Linked DNA regions of Homo sapiens: region 1 is linked to region 2. The links come from fine-mapping of genetic effects on gene expression. A gene starts in region 2. The other region holds a variant in brackets. All regions are shown on one strand. Distances are between the middles of the regions. Region 1 overlaps BRI3 (brain protein I3). Region 2 holds the start of BAIAP2L1 (BAR/IMD domain containing adaptor protein 2 like 1).

What was found. PIP is the estimated chance that this variant, and not a neighbour inherited with it, causes the effect.
Region 1: its variant is fine-mapped to the expression of BAIAP2L1 in whole blood (TOPMed, PIP above 0.99).

What each region holds. Positions count from the first base shown.
Region 1 is chr7:98,282,624-98,285,627 of GRCh38, forward strand. The region is part of intron 2 of BRI3 (brain protein I3); the gene reads left to right. Among named protein-coding and RNA genes, the nearest start is that of BRI3, 2.4 kb to the left of the region's middle. The variant G/C (reference allele first, on the strand shown) is at 1,261.
Region 2 is chr7:98,399,747-98,402,246 of GRCh38, forward strand. It overlaps BAIAP2L1 (BAR/IMD domain containing adaptor protein 2 like 1), which reads right to left and starts at 1,344. Exons shown (of 14, transcript NM_018842.5): 1 at 1,056-1,344. The coding sequence starts at 1,106. RefSeq lists a silencer at 1,018-1,677.

The DNA.
Region 1 (3,004 bases), 120 kb before region 2:
TGCGGGTCCGCTCACCCTTGGCTCTGAACACATTTTGTGGGGGCAAAAGGGTGGATTCCTTTTCCTAGATCTTGGGGCATTGCACCCCAAGTGATTGGGATGTAGAAATGGTAACAACGGGACTCGTGGTCCTTTCGTCTTTGTTCTGGGACTTGCAAGGAATCAGGTGTCTGCTTTTTCCTTCACTTTCCGCAAGTTTACTCTGCAGTTGATCGTCGAAGGTGGTGGAAGGTTTCATTTTCCCGGAAGGGGCATTTGGAAGTAAGTGCACCAGCAGGACAGACCTCAGTGGGAGAAGCGACGGCCGTAAGAGCTGCTTTATCCAAAGTTGGCTTGAAACGCTCTTCCACGAGCTGGACCAGGATGGAAACCCCGTGTTTCTTTGAGGCAGGAGTTATTTTTTTCATATCCTCGCATTGGACCTGCACACGCTTTTTGGTTTTTATAGGGCCCCGAGGTGCAGCTAGAGGCTTGTTTTGTGGAGGTTTTGAGGATTCACATTTAAATAAGGATTAATTAAATATAAACCCTTGGCAGCTGGGGGTGTTCAGATTGCTTAGAAAGTAGGGGCAGAGTTGGCCGGGACAGGGTTTTCAGCTGTGTCTCGGAGGAGGAAGTTGAAGCCACTGAGATGGAATTAAGAAACCCTGGTTTGGACTTAGACTTGATTTCAAAAGTGTGTGTGTAAGGCCTAGAGTGGAGTCACGGGGAAGTGAGTGATTTCAGAGCCTTAGCAGGCAACTTCCTGGGAAGGAAGGGCAACCTAGAGGTGGGGACAAGAGGCTGGGACCTCGGGGGCAGGTTGTGGCTGCTTGCCTGCACAGGGACCCCGTGACAAACCCTAACTGGGACGTCAGTTTGACACAGTTGGTCACCACCCAGCAGAAACATTAGCCTTTGGAGTGAAGGTGGAGGGAGGGCAGGGTGGGGCGCTGGCTGCCTTCGGGACATAGTTCTCTCCCGGAGCTGCACCGGGTTGGGGGGCTGGCAGAGCTGTGTGAGTGTGAAGGCACATGGAGGGGACTCAGAACATGGAGGAGCAGAGGGTCTGCCTGCGTGTCATTGTCCATGCCCTGCCATCCCGGTGTCCAGCCTGCCGGAGGAGCCGGGTTCCGGTCCTGGTCCTGCCAGGAACAGCGGGGCTTGTTTCCCCACCTGGGACGTGGGGGTGTCTGGTGAGGTGTCTCTGAAGCTCTTAGCTCTTCTCTGCCCAAACCCCTGAACTTGGAGAGGTGAGAGACCAGCGGCAGCGAGGGATGG[G/C]CCAGATATCCCAGGGCTGGGGGGCGCCGAGGTGGTGGCGCAGTTGCTGTCGGTATGGGGGCACTGGCCCTGCCACTTCCCCTTCCCTAGGTGGGAACTGTGTCCCTGCGGAGGCCCATGGCTTCCGCTAACCTGGAGGTGCTCTCCAGTTATGCAGAACCTGGAGCGGGGTCAGACTGTGCTCTGCTGGGAAGGATCTTGGGCTCGGCCCTCAGAGGCTGTAGGGGTGTGGGGTCCTTGGTTACTTAATCACTGCTCTCTGCCTCTGGGCAGCTGCACCAGGCAGGGTGGAGGCTGGGTCCTCTCTGGACAAGGTTGGGGGGTCCTTAGTCCTTTAAGTTGGGACCAGAGCACTCTTGGATCCTGCGGCGACCCCTTGGGTTGCAGCCAGGCCCTCCCAGCACACACGTCCCTGCGCTCTGCCCGTGGTGCCTTGGATGCTGGAGAGTGGCTCTGGCTCCCCGAGGCTTTGCCTCTGCAGCTGCATTGGGCATGGGATGGGCCCCTGTGCCCTGTGGCAGCCAGAGGGCGAGCAGGGGGCTGGGTGCTCTGCTGCTGGCGTGGGTGGGGTGTGTGGTCCCTGGGCCACTCCTCTCTGCGAGGAGAGTGGAGACGGTTCCCTGAACACACAACACACACGTCTGGCCGCTGCCTGGCGTCTTGGCCCGGGAGACAGGATACCACTCACATGACCACACTTCCTCCTGCCCCAGGTCCAGCCCGCCGGGCTCTGTCCCCCTCCCTGCCTGGTGGCATGGCAGGAATTTGCCCAAGTCACACATCTGTTAGTCCTTCTGAGTGAGGCTTGGCCAGAGAAGCCCGTGTCCCTTGTGGCTCTGCTGCCCTGGCCAGGCCTTCGCTGAAGCTGCCTGACTCCATCTTCCCTTTCTAGCCGTTTATGAGGAAGCATTTCCGCAGCCTGGCGGCGGATATGTCCCTGCTCCTCCCACCCTCCTGCTTCACCCCTGCCCTGCCCTGCCCTGCCCTGCCTTGCCCTGCCCAAGGCCTGGGCCTCCCTGAAGCCAGGTTCTCCCTTGCCCAGGGAGGCCAGTCATTCTTTGCTGGGGGTGTGGTTGTACCTAGGTGCAGGATGAGGTAGCTGCGCTGGGAGGCTCTCCTGGGCTGGAGCAGAGCCTGCGTCCTGCAAGCGGGGAAGGCAGGAGTGGGGAAGGCCCCTGGCCTGCACCAGGCCCCCATGAGTACTGGCTGGGCTGTCACTGGGTATTTAGTTTTGGGGGTGACCAGAGAGAGAGGAAATCCTGGAAAGGATTTCACTTTTCCTAGGGAAGGTGAAAAGAACAGCTGTGGAGGGCGGATGTCGCTCAGAGGTCCAGGGTGCGGCTCAGTGGCCAGCGTGGAGGCTGCCACGGCCCTTGGGGGGCAGAGGTGGGCTGTGGAGGGCACGGGGTGGTGACTGTGGAGCCCGGGAGGGGCTGGAGGGGAAGGAGCCTGTGACAGCCTTGGGCTTCCAGACGATGGAGGTGGAGGGGCTGCTCCCTCCTACCACCTGTGACCTGGAAGCCAGAGCTCCCCTGGTTGAGGAAGTGGCTGAGTTAGCTGGGATGGCTCTGCCCATATGTATGGCCTGTGGGCTGTCCCCGTCCTGACAGTCTTGGCCTGAGGTGTGGGGGCAGCGGATGGGCCGGAGCTTGGGCCTGGGCTGCTTGCTGGGCAGGGCTGCAGACCTCGGTGCCCAAGTGCTCCCTCAGTGGCCTCCTGAGTCTCTGACCTTGGGCTCAGCCCC
Region 2 (2,500 bases):
CTAAGTCTCTGTCTGTGTCTGGAAAAATTCTCTCCTAATACATGCAAGTTAAGAGACCGGCTATCAACGCATTCCTTAAGGTTAGGTCAATTTCATTAAAACCTCGGTTGTTCTTTGACTTCAAGAACCTCACCAAATAACCCATATATAAAAGCCAAGTTCAACTGAAAGGTGGGAGAGGAAGGGTCTAAGGAGGAGGGCGTTTCCCGGGAGAACGCCCAGAGCTCGGCTCACCTGGCGATCCTAATTACAGGGGAGTTTCACCCCCACATTCTTGGGCGCTTTCTTTTCTTAGAGGAAACTCGAGCTTGTGTCTTTGGTCCCGGAGGGCTTAAGCCCGGCAGCCAGGACAGCACGGGTCACTGATTCCAAGAAGTTGGGAGGAGGACGTGGGCCCCACCGACGCACAACAGACCCCTCCCCAACTTAAGTGCACTAGTTGTAAAATGTGTAGCTGGTCAGGGGATGGGGGGTGGTCTCCAGAGCTCTGAGGGTCAGGGAAGAGGAGAAGGGACGGGGAGGAGAAGGGACAGGGGAGGCGGAGAAGGGCCAGGAGAGGAGGGGGAGACACACGGGGAAGGAGGAAGAACCAAGAGGAGGGGGAGGGGGAGGGGGAGGGAGGGGGATAGACTGGGGAGAAGAAGGGACAGGGGAGGAGGGGGAGACACACGGGGGAGAAGGAAGAACCAGGAGGAGGGGAGGGACAGTGTCGAGGGGCAGGGGAGGAGGGAGAGTGAACGGGGAGCGGAGGGGCAGAGGGAGAGGTACAGCGGGGCGGGAAAGAGAGACAGGGAAGAAGCACAGGGAGGAGGGGAGGGAAGGAGGAGGAAAAGTAGGGGGGAGGGGATGGGGAGGGACTGGGAGGAAGGAGAGGGCCAGGGGAGGAAGAAGAGGGGCTGTGGAGGGCCAGGGGAGGAGTGGGAGAGACCGGGAGAGGTGGAAGGACGCGGGGGAGGGGAGCTGGAGGGAGGGAAAGTACCTTCCCGCGTAAAGTCCCCTTCTGAACCCCGAGGTGGAAAGCCCTGACCTCCCTGAGCCCCGGGCCCTGGGCTTACCCGGTAGGTGCTCTCCGTGAGCCGGTTCACCTCCTCGGGCCCCCGGGACATGGCTGCGGCCGCCGGGCGAGCAAGCGCGGGAGGACGCGGCTGGGCCTCGTGGCCGCCGGACTCCGGGCAGCGGGAGGGCCGGGGCGCGACTAAGGGGCTCTGGAGGGTCGGCCGCCGCCGCAGCCGTCGGCCCGAGAGTGCCCGCGCGCGTCTCCGCTGCGAAAATGTCAAAACTTGCGGCAGCGCCGCCCTGGCCTTCTTCGAGGAGCAGAGGAGAAGCGGCCGGACGCCGCCAGAGGAAGCTGGGCGGGCCGGGCGGCCCCACCTGAGGCGGGCGGGGCAGACGGGGGCGGGGCCGCAGGGCCGGAGGGGCGTGGCGTACCCACCTGAGGCGGCCTGGTGAGCGGGGCCCGGCCGGGGTGGGCGGGGAGGAGGCGGGGCCAGGCAGCTGGAATGGGCGTGGCCAGAGGGAAGCGGGCCCCCCGAGTGGGCGGGGTCACCCCACCTGTGGCGGACAGGGCAGCGAGGCCACGGTGCGCCCCCTCGCGGCTCTCCCAGAGCTCCGGCGACGTAGGGCCCGAGACCCTGGAGTGGGGACCGGTGTGGAGTGGGCTGCTCGCTTTGCTGTTTTGCTAGGGCAAGGGCAGCCTGGGGGTGTTTAGACTGTGGTCCTGGAGCCCTTGTTTGCCTCGCGTGGTGCTGGCCCCGGGGACCCCGAGGCCCACTTCCTCCATGAGGGCTTCCTTCAAGCCCTGCGTTTTGGGGACCAAGGGAAGGGGCCACATTCCCCAGTTGTATTGATTTCCCTGATTGATCTCTTCTTGCCCCGCCGCTCACTGACCCCAAAAGTTAGAGGGACCCGTGGGGGCATCGGCCCTCCTAGGTGGAGAAAACGGGCTGCCACTTGCAGTTTTGAAAGCTCCTGATATATCAAAAAATTAATAAATGCCAGGGTCTAGTTACCGAAATGTTAGTACTTTTTTTTTTTTGAGATGGAGTCTCACTCTGTCGCCTAGGCTGGAGTGCAGTGGTGCGATCTCAGCTTGCTGCAACCTCCGCTTCCCAGGTTCAAGCGATTCTCCTGCCTGGCATGAGCCATCCTGCCTGGCCCCCAGATAGAAGCTTTTTGTTTGTTTTTGAGACAGAGTTTCACTCTTGTCCCCTCAGGCTGGAGTGCAGTGGTGCTCTCTCAGCTTGCTGCAATCTCTGCCCCCCAGGTTTAAGCAATTCTCCTGCCTCAGCCTCTCGAGTAGCTGAGATTACAGGTGCACGTGCCACCAAGCCAGGCTAATTTTTTTGTATTTTTAGTAGAGACGGGGTTTCACCATGTTGGCCAGGTTGGTCCCGAGCTCCTAACCTCAGGTGATCCGCCCTGCTCAGCCTCCCAAAGTGCTGGGATTACAGGCTTGAACCACCGCGCCCGGCCCAGTAGTACATTTTTAAACTTTACATTA